2 linked regions of the Homo sapiens genome follow. The protein of the gene in region 2 interacts with the protein of the main gene of each other region in a pairwise test. Each region holds a gene or a part of one and is shown on either strand. Other genes may lie near its edges.

The links. The genes of interacting proteins can lie anywhere in the genome.
Region 1: the proteins of PDIA6 (region 2) and CLN8 interact in a two-hybrid assay, tested with the Homo sapiens proteins (one study listed by BioGRID).

Annotation. Positions count from the first base shown.
Region 1 is NC_000008.11:1,758,949-1,766,791, forward strand, and holds the start of CLN8 (protein CLN8), read left to right. Parts: upstream 1-4,840; 5' UTR 4,841-4,937; exon of another isoform or gene 4,938-5,050; intron 5,051-5,485; exon of another isoform or gene 5,486-5,636; intron 5,637-7,843. UniProt on the Homo sapiens protein: Could play a role in cell proliferation during neuronal differentiation and in protection against cell death.
Region 2 is NC_000002.12:10,802,782-10,809,803, forward strand, and holds part of PDIA6 (protein disulfide-isomerase A6 isoform d precursor), read right to left. Parts: intron 1-7,022. UniProt on the Homo sapiens protein: May function as a chaperone that inhibits aggregation of misfolded proteins. Negatively regulates the unfolded protein response (UPR) through binding to UPR sensors such as ERN1, which in turn inactivates ERN1 signaling.

The DNA of each region.
Region 1 (7,843 bases), on a different chromosome or scaffold from region 2:
CCTCAAGAGACAGCCGTGTGGGGCCCCTTCAAAATATGTCAAAGAAATATATTCTGGGGTAAAATGCTTGATTTCTTCCAGGGCCTGCTCTCTATCATGTGATGCTATACTAGAGTCAGGTTGGAATGTAGTATCTTATTGCTACAGAGTCTGTTTTGTCAACCTTAAGATCTCTGCTTTGACGTTAATGCAGGTCAGCTGTGCCTGGATTTCAACGGAAGGCGGGTATAAGGAGCCTGTCCCACCCCCACTTCCCATCACGGTCTGAACTAGTCTCTAAGGTTTACTTTGGAAAGCTCGTGGCTAACGGGGTTGGCGGGGGACTAGAATTTTATTTTTGTTTTACAGTCTCAAAGGAATCGCGATAGGTGCAGGGGCCACTGCAGTGGGACTAGGCTCAACTCTGAGTGTAAGAAGAAAAACGGGAATGTACAGCCACGGAGAGGGTGAGAACGGACGGAAAACTATGAAGAGGCTACATCAGGCCAGGGGGGTTCTTGCTAGAACCACTTGGTAGGATTCGTGCCACAGGCAGGCCAGGTGATAAGATACCGAGGGTGAGGGATGAGGAGTATGATATCAGGGGCGGGGAACTGTCACTGCATTGACCCAGCAGGATTCTTTTGGACGAAAGGGGACAGGGGTCCAGGTCAGAGCCTTGAGGGCTTCGAGGACCCTGCCTGGAGTTAGGTCAGGTAGAGTCTTTGCCACATTGAGGCTGAGAAGCTGAGCAGCTGATCTGCGGGAGTCCAGAGACCCTCATGCTTCCTGCAGATGTGCTGTCAGCAGATCCTGAACTTGGGTTCCAGTGTTTTAAAGTGTTGTTTGCAAGCACCGCGGTCCTGCTCTCCCACTCACAGAACTACTATTGCTCACTGGTGAAGGACACTGGATTTAAAATCACAGACGTTCTTTTTCGCCTCTCGCTCATTATACATCCCTTTGAGGACACCGTCATTTTGCTGTTTAGGAGGAAGAAACAGGCAGAAGAGAACTCCTCCCATCCCTCCGCTAATGGCTTTTAAAACAGTCTTTTTTGTAATGGAACAACCAAACCTCACAATGAGCGTATATTGCTTGTGTGACCAGAAAGTAAGACAGTCCCCTGACACCTCAATTAAGTCATTTTGGTTGTCTACTCCAGACACCTCATGGCATCGTACTTCAAAATTCAGCTTTGTCATTTAGCAGTGTGTGGAGGTGCACACATTGCTAACCTCAGGCTCACTGAACACTGTTTTTTTTCTATGACGTGGATAATGGTGCCTGCGTCAGACACCTGTGATGTTTGAAAGAACCAGTTTATCAAAGTGCTTAGCCTGACGCCTGACACGCTGTGCACCCAAGATAAATGTTTGTTGTGTCATTCGATCTGTCGAGGAAGGAGGTGAGACACTTGTGGGTGGCAGGGCGGGAGGGGAGTACACAGGCTGTAAACAGCAGTGCCCAAGCTGAGACGGAGCAAGCTGGGAATCCGCCCGGGTTTCATTCAGTGTTCCACACCCCGCATGGATACTGGTTATACCTGTGATCAGTTATGCCTGTGATGGTTTTTTAGAAAACAAAACTATTTTATCACTCTGCTTTAAAGATGGCCGAGTGGAAAGACACAGTCCTGGAATGTTTAAATTCAAGCTGAAGAGCTTACTAGCCACGTGACTGAGCAAGTTATGGTTCCATCTTTCTAAGCCTCACTTCATTCTTTGTTAAGACAGGCCTCAGCATGCTGTTAGTAGGAATCTAAGGAACCCAGTGCTGATGGAGAAAGGGGTCCAGTCCAGACCCTAAGAGAGAGTTCTCGGATCTTGCGCAGGGAGGAACTCAAGGCAGTCGCAGAGTGCAGTGAGAGACAGCTGCTCTGATACAGAGTGGGGAGCCCGCGGAAAGCAGGAAGAAGAATGTGCCATCTTTGTTTCAAAGGCATCTTGTATCAATGTAAAAGCCAAGCTACGTGTAAGTGCAGGTGGGCTGGCAGTGTGACAAGATCTAGTACTTGGTGGATGTAAATAACGTTATCCTTGGCATTTCAGTGCGTAACTACATCTAAGCATGACTATAGCCATCTTTTTTTTTTTTTTTTTTTTTTTTTGAGATGGAGTCTTGCTCTGTTGCCCAGGCTGGAGTGCAGTGGCATGATCTCGGCTCACTGCAACCTCCGCCTCCCAGGTTCAGGCAATTCTCCTGCCTCAGCCTCCCACGTAGCTGGGATTACAGGCTACTGTAACTGCCAATCAGGTTCATGTTGCCTACACAGAGCTGATTTATCCAAACAGGTGAACTGCATAGAGAAAGAATAATCCACACAGAGCTGGCTGTGCGGGAGACCAGAGTTTTATTATTACTCAAATCAATTTCCCCAAGAATTCGGAGTTCAGAGTTTTTGCTGTTGTTTTTGAGATGGAGTCTTGCTCTGTTGCCCAGGCTGGAGTGCAGTGGTGCGATTTCAGCACACTGCAACCTCCGCCTTCAGGGTTCAAGCAATTCTCCTGCCTCAGGCTCCCAAGTAGTTGGCATTACAGGCGTGCACCACCACGCCTGGCTAATTTTTGTATTTTTAGTAGAGACGGGGTTTTGCCATGTTGGCCAGGCTGGTCTTGAACTTCTGACCTCAAGTGATCCGCCTGCCTCGGCCTCCCAGAGTCCTGGGATTACAGGTGTGAGCCACCGTGCCCAGCCCTGGAGTTCAGAGTTTTTAAGGATAATTTGGTAGGTAGGGGGCCAGTAAGCTGGGAGCACTGAGGGGTCAGATCAGAGATGAAATCGTATGGATCAAAGCTGTCCTCTTGGCCTGAGCCGGTTGCTGAGTGCGGGCCACAAGATCAGATGAGCCAGTTTATCCATCTGGATGGTCCCAGCTAATTCAGCAAGTGCAAGGTCTGCAAAATATCTCAAGCACTGTTGTTAGGTTTTTCAATAGTGATGTTATCCCCAGGAGCAATTTAGGGAGGGTCAGAATCTTGTAATCTCCAGCTGCATGAATTCTAAACCATAATTTCTAATCTTGTGGCTAATTTGTTAGTCCTACAAAGGCAGTCTAGTCTCCAGACAAGAAAAGGATTTGTTTCGGGAAACCATAAACTAAGTTTCTTCCAAAGTTAGTTTGGCCTACACCCAGGAATGAACAAGGACAGTTTGGAGGTTAAAAGTAGGATGGAGTTGGTTAGGTCAGATCTCTCACTGTCTCAGTTATAATTTTGCAATGGTGGTTTCACTGGTTTTAAGATGGAGTTTATTTTATTTTATTTTTATTTTTTTGAGACAGAGTTTCATTCTTGTTGCCCAGGCTAGAGTGCCATGGCGTGATCTCAGCTCACTGCAACCTCTGCCTCCTGGGTTCAAGCAATTCTGCTTCAGCCTCCTGAGTAGCTGAGATTACAGGTGCCCACCACCACACCCGGCTAATTTTTTTCTCCCAAACTGCTGGGATTACAGGCTTGAGCCACCGCGCCCGCCAAGATGGGTTGTTGATTTTAAAACGATGTCACCCTGGCTCTCCTAGGTTCCTGTTCCCCTAACATCATGAAGGCTGCTGGCAGTTCTCTGGCCTCCAGGGAGGCCTCCACACACATTTACCCATGTTCTTAGACAATCCTAGGGACTCAAGGCTTCAACAAACCTAAATGAGCCAGCAGAAAAATAAACTTGAACATGAATGTCAACGTTTTCCCACATGTACTAAAGGGTTATAATAATTTTGAAATGTTTATTTCAAAGAGCGTTGGTAATTTAAACGTCCTATTTAATCCCCAAAACAGTCCTGAGGGGGAGATAAGGCAGTTATCTTCATAGTACAGGAAAGGAAAAAAGCGAGGGTCCAAGGCCGACTATACCCTCAGCTCCATTAGCCCCCGAGGCCTCCCTGACAGGCGGGGCGGACAATCCCAGTGCAGATGCTCTGTATCGATCGCATGCTATCGGTTCTTTCAAGGAACGTGTATTGATCATCAATTAAGTGGTGAGTACTCCTCTAGATGTCGATTCTAAAGAGGGAACAAAACACATTAGACAGAAGAAACATAAGTAACTCGAATAACAACCTTAGAGAGAAGAAACATAAGTAACTCGAATAACAACCTTAGCAAACTGCGGAAACTCCTACAGACAAAAACTCAGGTGTGGGCGCAGAAGGGCCGGGGATGCGCTCGGTCAAGACTTGAAGGTCCGGGGCTTGGGCCCTGTGTCCTCACCGAGCCCCGGGGAGGCTCCGGCTCCGTCCACACCCGGAGCGCGACTCAGCCGCGGCCGGGGCTCTTCTGGAGAACGGCGCGGTCAGGCTCTGCCGCAGCTTTCAGGTCCCCTCGGCCCCGTCCGGGTGCAGCGCAACCAGGCTGCCCGCGGAGCCCCACCGCCCCCATGCCGCCGCCCGCCATGGTTCAGCCCGGCCCCGCCCCTCCCGCCGGCCGTGGTTCAGCGCGTCCACCCCGCCGCCCCACAGCGCCCGCCGCGCCGCGCCCCGCCCCCCGCCGCGCCCCGCCCCCCGCCGCGCCCCGCCCCCCGCCGCGCCCCGCCCCCCGCCGCGCCCCGCCCCCCGCCGCGCCCCGCCCCCCGCCGCGCCCCGCCCCCCGCCGCGCCCCGCCCCCCGCCGCGCCCCGCCCCCCGCCGCGCCCCGCCCCCCGCCGCGCCCCGCCCCCCGCCGCGCCCCGCCCCCCGCCGCGCCCCGCCCCCCGCGCCGCGCCCCGCCCCCCGCCGCGCCCCTCCCGCGCCCGCCGCCCCGCCCCTCCCGCGCCCGCCGCCGTCGTAGCGCCTAGGCGGGGCCTCTCGTAGCGACGCCCCCAGGGGGGCAGAACGCGTGCGCACGCGCGTGCGAACGCGCGTGCGCGGGCGGTGTTTGAGGCCGGCCAGTCGTGACTGGGCGGCAATGAGGTCAGTGACTGCCGGGAGTCCTGCAGGGGCGGGGCGGCGCCAAGCGCAGGGAGCCCGGCTGAGTGGCAGCCCAGGTGAGCGCTCAGGGAGCCCGGGTGAGGGCCGGGAACCCAGGTGAGGGGCAGCCCAGGTGAGCGCGCGGGGTGCCCGGGTTAGGGGCCGGGAACCCAGGTGAGGGGCAGCCCAGGTGAGCGCGCGTGGAGCCCAGGCGAGGGGGCTGGGAAGCCCGGGTGAGGGGACCGGGGATCCCAGGTGAGGGGCCGGGAACTCAGCTGAGGGGGAACCCAGATGGGCGCGCGGGAGCCCACGTGAGGGGGAGCCCGGGTGAGGGGCCGGGGTGGCTCCTGGCGTCCGCGGTCCCAGCCCTGCCTTCCGGTGGGCGTGCGGCACCCCGGGCCGTGCGGTTCCCGGACAGCAGCTTGTGGGGGACTTTCGAGCCCCGCAGCCCGGGGTCCTGCCTGCGCGGGTTGGGCGTGGGGGGCTCCTCACCGCGACGCTGACTTTGGAGTCCTTGAGCGGCGCGGATGCCGGACGGAGGGAGGGGACAGGCGGAGGCGGAGGCGGCGCCGTCGCCCCTGACCTCGCTTCCCTCAGACCGGCTGGGCAAGTACGGTCAGCTCACCTGTGTGCCCACGAGGCGGGGAGGCGGCTCCTGCAGAGCCACAGAGGTGCCGTCGGAGCTGCTGTCAAGGACAGCAGGTGTCACGTGGGTGTGGCCTCCACTGGTCACCGAGTTAGCTGGGGCGGAAGGGGACAAGGTGCAGCTCAACATGGTGTGGGAGGCGGAGGGACGCTGGGTCAGTCAGAACCTGTAGGAGCGGGGAGGGACGCTGGGTAAGGTCACCAAAGTGTGCGGGGGAGAGAGCGGGCGCTGGGTCAGGTCAGCAGGAGGTGGGACCCGCCTGGGCTCTGGGCCCTATAGCCAGCTGCTCTAGGTTGGGGTTGGGTGTGGACAGTAGGGAGGGGAGCCAGGGGCTCCCCAGCCTGTGTAGATTCTGCTGTAAGTGACTCTTCTCTGAAAGACTGGCGCGAGGCGGCTGCTTCTGACTCCTGTTTCAGTTTACCCTCTGTGTGAAATCTGTAACTATCCAGCTTCTGCTTACCTCACTCCCGTATTTTGATTTTTATTTACATACAACTTTTCAGGAAGGTTGTGAGAGGAAAGAGCAATGGTGCAGGAAGTGTGAGTGATTGAGGGAATATGAGATGGCCACAGCTCCCCACTGAGCTTGAACACTTCTGTGCCTCACTTTCAGATTGGCCGTCATGGAGGCTGTGGTTGTTAAGGAAGTTCTTCCTGAGCATCCAGTTTCCATACAAAGAGCACAGGTTCTCTAGGTGGCCTCAGAGATGTTCAATACACAATGTCTTCTGATAACGAGGAACTGGGCAAAAGCCTGGTAGGACACCGGGTAGGTAAATGGTGGAGTCCCTGCAACCGTGTTGCAGAGGAGGATTAGCTGTTGCTGAGAGAAGAGAAGCAGGCCGGGGAGCAGCTTGTATACTGTTATCCCCTTTTATGTAAAAAGAAGAGTTTATATCTAGAAAAACAATTGACCCAGCAGGCACCAAAAAATAGTGATGGTGCTTGGAGCTGTGTAAGAGGATTGTAAATTTTTATTTTTGTATTTTTATGCTTGTTTATATTTTCTGAATTTTGTGTATTAAACATGTATTTCTGTTGATTTTGGAAAACATTTTTACAACCCATCAATGTATAATTTTCAAAATGTTAGAAGTATAATTCTCATGTAAATAGCTCTTGTCAGGTTATATTTCAGTCATTAATGCAGTATACAGCAGGATAGGAATGTCAGTTCAAAAGAGAATACACAAAACTAGGATTTTCTTAGTGAGTGGGTAACAGGAATGCTGAGAGAAGATTGCCAGATTAGATAATAAGATTGGTGAATATCCTGTGTGCATTGAAACCACAGCCTTTGGGATTGTCTTTTCTTCTTGATGGAAAGGAGAATTAGCTTTGCAGATTGTAAAATGCGTGACCCACAATCAGTGGTAAATAGTTTAGTTATTTCTCCTAGAAAGTCAAGTGATTGTTGGGGTTGTAAAACACTGAACTTGCGTTAGCAGGGAAAAAAGCATGCAACCTTTTTTTTCCCTTTTGACGTCACTTCCAAGTTTGGATAAATTATCTCAATGAAAAACAAAAATGCTGGTATCCATAGCAGTTTAGCCCCCATAAACCGGAGGAGCGCATAGATGCATGACAGAGTCGAAGGGTTCCAGTGGCCACTGAGCCTGGTTCCTGGTCACACTGCAGCAACAGAGCTAACACTCTTACTGATGTGTTTGCATTCAGATTTTTAAAAAACTTCATGGCCCAGTGCAATAGAAGAGCTGAAACCACAGAATCTTATAAGACAAGCTTTTTGTATACATTTTCTCCAAAGAAAATGAAGATCTGCAGCGTCAAGAGATGGTGGCCTTCCAGGAGTTGTTTATTCTCCGGCTCCACTTCCTCTACTGCAGAGAGGAAAGGGGCTGGTGTGGAAGGGCTTGGAAGCCTTCCAGAATGAAAGAACCAGATGAGTCCATTAGGTTCGGCCTCCAGTTTTTTGTTTTTTTTTTTTTTTTTGAGACGGAGCCTCACTCTGTCACCCAGGCTGGAGTGCAGTGGCGCTATCTCAGCTCACTGCACGTTCCGCCTTCCAGGTTCCCGCCATTCTCCTGCCTCAGCCTCCCGAGTAGCTGGGACTACAGGCGCTCGCCATCACGCCTGGCTATTTTTTTTTTGTATTTTAGTAGAGACAAGGTTTCACCATGTTAGCCAGGATGGTCTCGATCTCCTGACCTCGTGATCCTCCCACCTTGGGCTCCCAAAGTGCTGGGATTACAGGTGTGAGCCACCCTGCCCGGCCGATTCGGCCTCCAGTTTTACCCATGGAAGGAACAGTGACTTCCAGCTGTGCATTACACTTAAGGACTCCTTCATGTGGCCTGAGCCTTATGGTGCACAGCA
Region 2 (7,022 bases):
CTGCAGTTGGAGCCCCTGGAATTTCACTCCCATTGCTGCAACGCTGAGCAAGAAAGGAACGGACGGTCCCCACTCCCACTCCTTGGGCTGCACTGGAAAAAGGCTGAAGCATTATTCTTAGTGGCTTTCATGTATCAACGTCTTTGTTCTTTACAACCGCTCCATGAGGCAGTACTACTGTCATTTTATGGCATGGACGCTGAAAAATTGGGAGGTCACTTCTGCCTGTGTAACCCTGGGCAATCACGTAGTAATCATTCCTCATGTTATTCAGTTGCAATTATTAGCACATTATCTTTATTCAAATATATTTTTGAAGGGAAAATAATTATTGTCTCTTCCACTAGATTGTGACTCTTTCAAGGGCAATGGTAATTTATTTATTTATATTTTGAGACGGAGTTTCGCTCTTGTTGCCCAGGCTGGAGTGCAATGGCATGATCTTGGCTCACCACAACCTCCGCCTCCCAGGTTCAAGCAATTCTCCTGCTTCAGCCTCCCAAGTAGCTGGGATTACAGGCATGTGCCATCACGCCCGGCTAATTTTGTATTTTTAATAGAGACAGGGTTTCTCCATGTTGGTCAGGCTGGTCTCGAACTCCTGACCTCAGGTGATCCGCCTGCCTCGGCCTCCCAAAGTGCTGGGATTACAGGCATGAGCCATGGCGCCCAGCCAATGTTTATTTTTATAAATAGTTTTATTTCTCTTAATACTATCCATAACACATTATCAGAAACACTGTTCGTGTGAACAACCTTATAAAGACAGGATACAGTGTCGACTGTATTGCTGACCACACAGTTCTGCCACATTGTGGATCAAGAGCATTTTCATTAGCAACTCTGGAAACTTACATGCAATTTACAACAATAATTTAGGAAAACAAATTCTGAACTTACTAGTATCTTAAGAACCCAAAAGTTCTCTGAAATGGCATTACTATCAAAATTTCACCTTTTAAATTTACATATACAGTCACATCCACAGGGTCAAGGAGAGAACACATATATGAGGGTGGTCCTGTGGATTATAATGGAGCTTAAAAAATCCTATCACCTTGTGATGCCTTGATAACTCTGACCCTGAGTAGACCTAGGCTAATGTGCGTGTTTGTGTCCTAGTTTTTGTGTTTTTTTTTTTTTTTGAGACAGAGTCTTGCTCTGTCACCCAGGCTGGAGTGCATTGGCGCTATCTCGGCTCACTGCAAGCTCTGCCACCCGGGTTCACGCCATTCTCCTGCCTCAACCTCCTGAGTAACCGGGACTACAGGCGCCTGCCACCACGCCTGGCTAATTTTTTGTATTTTTAGTAGAGATGGGGTTTCACTGTGTTAGCCAGGATGGTCTCGATCTCCTGACCTTGTGATCCGCCCGCCTCGGCCTCCCAAAGTGCTGGGATTACAGGCGTGAGCCACCGTGCCCGGCCCTGTGTCCTAGTTTTTGACAAAAAAGTTTAAAAAACTAAAACAAACTTTAAAAACGAAAAAAACCTACGTTTTCTTCTAGGGTTTTTATGGTTTTAGGTCTAACGTTTAAGTCTTTAATCCATCTTGAATTGATTTTTGTATAAGGTGTAAGGAAGGGATCCAGTTTCAGCTTTCTACATATGGCTAGGCAGTTTTCCCAGCACCATTTATTAAATAGGGATTCCTTTCCCCATTGCTTGTTTTTCTCAGGTTTGTCAAAGATCAGATAGTTGTAGACAGGCAGCGTTATTTCTGAGGGCTCTGTTCTGTTCCATTGATCTATATCTCTGTTTTGGTACCAGTACCATGCTGTTTTGGTTACTGTAGCCTTGTAGTATAGTTTGAAGTCAGGTAGTGTGATGCCTCCAGCTTTGTTCTTTTGGCTTAGGATTGCTTTGGCGATGCGGGCTCTTTTTTGGTTCCATATGAACTTTAAAGTAGTTTTTTCCAATTCTGTGAAGAAAGTCATTGGTAGCTTTATGGGGATGGCATTGAATCTGTAAATTACCTTGGGCAGTATGGCCATTTTCACGATATTGATTCTTCCTACCCATGAGCATGGAATGTTCTTCCATTTGTTTGTATCCTCTTTTATTTCCTTGAGCAGTGGTTTGTAGTTCTCCTTGAAGAGGTCCTTCACATCCCTTGTAAGTTGGATTCCTAGGTATTTTATTCTCTTTGAAGCAATTGTGAATGGGAGTTCACTCATGATTTGGCTCTCTGTCTGTTGTTGGTGTATAAGAATGCTTGTGATTTTTGTACATTGATTTTGTATCCAAAAGCAATGGCAACAAAAGACAAAATTGACAAATGGATCTAATTAAACTAAAGAGCTTCTGCACAGCAAAAGAAACTACCATCAGAGTGAACAGGCAACCTACAAAATGGGAGAAAATTTTCGCAACCTACTCATCTGACAAAGGGCTAATATCCAGAATCTACAATGAACTCAGACAAATTTACAAGAAAAAAACAAACAACCCCATCAAAAAGTGGGCGAAGGACATGAACAGACACTTCTCAAAAGAAGACATTTATGCAGCCAAAAAACACATGAAAAAATGCTCATCATCACTGGCCATCAGAGAAATGCAAATCAAAACCACAATGAGATACCATCTCACACCAGTTAGAATGGCAATCATTAAAAAGTCAGGAAACAACAGGTGCTGGAGAGGATGTGGAGAAATAGGAACACTTTTACACTGTTGGTGGGACTGTAAACTAGTTCAACCATTGTGGAAGTCAGTGTGGCGATTCCTCAGGGATCTAGAACTGGAAATACCATTTGACCCAACCATCCCATTACTGGGTATATACCCAAAGGACTATAAATCATGCTGCTATAAAGACACATGCACATGTATGTTTATTGCGGCATTATTCACAATAGCAAAGACTTGGAACCAACCCAAATGTCCAACAATGATAGACTGGATTAAGAAAATGTGGCACATATACAGCATGGAATACTATGCAGCCATAAAAAATGATGAGTTCATGTCCTTTGTAGGGACATGGATGAAATTGGAAATCATCATTCTCAGTAAACTATTGCAAGAACAAAAAACCAAACACCGCATATTCTCACTCATAGGTGGGAATTGAACAATGAGATCACATGGACACAGGAAGGGGAATATCACACTCTGGGGACTGTTGTGGGGTGGGGGGAGGGGGGAGGGATAGCATCGGGAGATATACCTAATGCTAGATGAGGAGTTAGTGGGTGCAGTGCACCAGCATGGCACATGTACCCTAAAACTTAAAGTATAATTAAAAAAAAAAAAAAAAAAACGAAAAAAACCTTACAGAATACGGATATAAAAGAAAATACTGGCCAGGTGCTATGGGTCATGCTTGTAATCCCAGCACTTTGGGAGGCCAAGGCAGGCAGATCGCTTGAGCTCAGGAATTCAAGACCAGCCTGGGCAACATAGTGAGACCCCCTCTCTAAAAAAAGTACAAAAATTAGCCAGGCATGGTGGTGCATGCCTATAGTCCTAGCTACTCGAGAGGCTGAGGTGGGAGGATCACTGAGCCCAGGGAGGTCGAGGCTACGGGTGCAGTGGGCTGTGATGCACCACTCACTCCAGCCTGATAGGGCAAGACCTTGTCTCAAAAAAAAAAAAAAAAGAGAGAAAATATTTTTGTACTGCTGTTTTGTATAATGCGTTTTAAGGTAAGTGTTTTTACAAGAGCCAAAAAGTTAAAAAAAAAAAATTAAGTTTAGAAAGTAAAATGTTGACCAGATGCCATGGCTCACACCTATAATCCCAACACTTTGGAGGCCAAAGTGGGAGGACTGCTTGAGGCCAGCAGTTCAAAACCAGGCTGGCCAACACAGAATAGCAAAACCACATCTCCTAAAAAATAAAGACAGAAAGAAAGAAAGAAAGAAAAACGTTACAGTAAATTAAGGTTAATCTATTATCCAAGAAATAAAATTTTTAGAGCAACCCCCAGTCATGCAAGCTGCATTCACGGTAAATGTCCTGTACAGGTGTACTATTTTAATCTTTTATATCATATTTTTACTGCACCCTTTCTATGTTTAGATACACAAATGCTTGCCATTGTGTTACAACTGCATACAATATTCAGTACAGTAACATGCCGAACAGATTTATAACCTAAGAGAAATAAGCTATACCATGTAGCCTAGGTTTTTAGTAAGTTATGCCATCTAGGTTTGTATTAAGTACACACTGATGTTATTCACAATGAAGAAATCGTCTGATACAATAGCAATTAAAGAAATTTCTATTCCTGTCTTTTCAGCATCTCTGAAGTTGATCATAATTCAGATCACGTCTCTAATGTTAAGCAACACATGACAATATACAAAAATTTGCTGATTACCTCTAGAACAAGGTAAATAATGGAATATCCTCAGACTATTCTTGACTTCAACAAGGTTTTCCTATTTGCATCATGCTGGCTTTTGGATTGAAATAAATACACTTTTTAATTTTTTTTGAGAGAGGGTCTTGATCTGTCACCCAGACTGGAGTGCAATGGTGCAAACACAGCTCCCTGCAGCAGCCCTGACCTCCTGGGCTCAAGTGATCCTCCCACCTCAGCACCCCCAGTAGCTGGGACTACAGGTGCATCCCTGGCTAACTTTTAAATTTTTTGTAGAGACAGGGTCTCCCTGTGTTGCCCAGGCTGGTCTCAAGTGATCCTCCTGCCTCTGCCTCCCAAAGTGCTGGGATTACAGGTATGAGTGACCACGCCAGGCCAAAATGTACTTACAATGTTAACGAAATTTCTATCTATTCCTGTCTTTTCAGCATCTCTGAAGTTGATCATATCATTTCTTCCTTTTAATTTGTTGATATAGCAAATTATAAGTGAGACTGGCCTGTGTTCTCAAGTAGTGTGTGTACATGCCATCTTAGTTACATTTTCACATGCTTGCTTCACAATTAGAATTTGGAAGATTTCAAATGGACCTTTTTGGAATAACTAAATGGTACACTTTTTCTGGAAGGAGTGTACACCATTGTTCATTGTTTTACTGCTAAATCCTCCATCATACAACACGTTCAATTTTTCAAATCACTATCAAATGTTAGATCACTTAATTTTTGACAGCATTACTAACTAGAAAGTAGGACTTATCCCCATTTTGTAAATAAAGGTCTAGACCAAATGGCCCATCTATGGTCATACATATAAGGGGCAGGGCAGCTCTCCATTTCCAAGCTTTTCCTATTACACCATGCTGTCTTTTTAGTGCTCAAGATAAAGTGGTTCTGTACGCTATAGGTATGAATGAACAATTATGGTATTCAAGATTTACACTGCATTTGAATCACAGATATAGCCAATACTGTAAGAACTTATAAAACTGTTAATTTTACTAATAGTGAAGCCACTAAAGGGTTATCATTCAGAGGAAAGAATAGATTTATGCTTTCTAGAAGGAGTATTCCAGTTGCCATGTGGAAGGTGGATTGGGAGAATTATCCAGAGTGGTGTCACATAAACCAAGATACATGTGGAAGGGGCCACACTAACAAATGCTACTGGGAGATAAAGTAGCAAAGACTTAAAACCATCTACTGATTGGATTTAGTGACAAAGAAGTCACTGGGAGCCCTGGCAGTTGTGGTGGAGTGAAAATAACAGGCATGCAGTCTGCAGAAGGTTGGAGAGAATATAGGTAACTCTTTAAGCAGGTTTCATTATAGAGACCAGAGGCAGGCAAATGTAGAAAACAAGGAAGGTTTTCTTTGAAGATGGGAGTGATCTAGGAGAGGAAGACATATGCAGTGGGAGAGGCCAAAGATAAAATACAGGGAGTATCTGAATAAAATGCCCAGAGTCAGAAGAGGAGCGGGAACCCAGTCAGTGATGGAGTAGCCTTTGATAGGATGATCTCCTTTTCCATTTCAAGAGGTGGGAAAGGATGCCTGTGAATGGATGCCAGGCTAACCAAAGCGGGGCTGCTCTCTCAGTAACAGGTTATCCAGCATGATAGCCACTAGCTACATGTGGCTACCCCAAACTAAGATATGCTGGTAAAAACACACTGAATTCTGAAGACTTAATGGAGGGAAAAATGTAATCTCATTATTTTTCTTTTTTTTTGAGACGGCGTCTCACTCAGCTGCCCAGGCTGGAGTGCAGTGGTGCAATCTTGGCTCACTGCAACCACTGTCTCCTGGGTTCAAGCGATTCTCCCGTCTCAGGATTACAGGCATCAGCCATCATGCCCGGCTAATTTTTGTATTTTAGTAGAGATGGGGTTTCACCATGTTGGCCAGGCTGGTCTTGAACTCCTGACCTCAGGTGATCCGCCCACCTTGGCCTCCCAAAGTGCGAGGATTACAGGCGTGAGCCACCGTGCCCGGCCTCAATATTATTTTTCATTTTGAAAACACATGTTTAAATGATCTTAGATATACTCAGTAAATATATTAATTTCACCTGTTTCTTTTGGCCATTTTAAATGTAGCTACTAGAAAATTTAAAATTACATATATGTTTGCATTATATTTCTATTGGATGGCACTGCTCATTAATCTTTTCACTGCTGCAGAAAAGGTGAAGTAGAGTTTGACACGTTTAACAAAGCCAAGTAAATCAAGAACATAAGCACTGACAGTCCTAACTCTGAATAAGCTTGAAAGTAAGACTAAGGCTGGGTGTGGTGGCTTAGGCCTGTAATCCCAGAACTTTGGGAGGATGAGGCGGGTGGATAACCTGAGCCAGGAGTTTGAGACCAGCCTGGGCAACATGGCAAAACTCCATCTCTTGTAGAGAAAAAATATGAAATACAAAAATGCAAAAATTAGCTCGGTATGGTAGGGTGCATCTGTAGCCGCAGCTACTCCAGAGGCTGATGTGGGAGGATTGCTTGAGCCTGGGAGGCAGAGCAAGACCCGGTCTCAAAAAAAAAAAAAAAAAAAAAAAAAAACCCAAAAAATAGGATAATCTTCTACAGAGATGTACTACTTTTAAAGAACTTTATCTTTTTTGTAAAATCGATATGAATTTGGTACTTGCTCAGTACACTGAGCCTATTGTGAAATTTTCAAAAATGGAAAA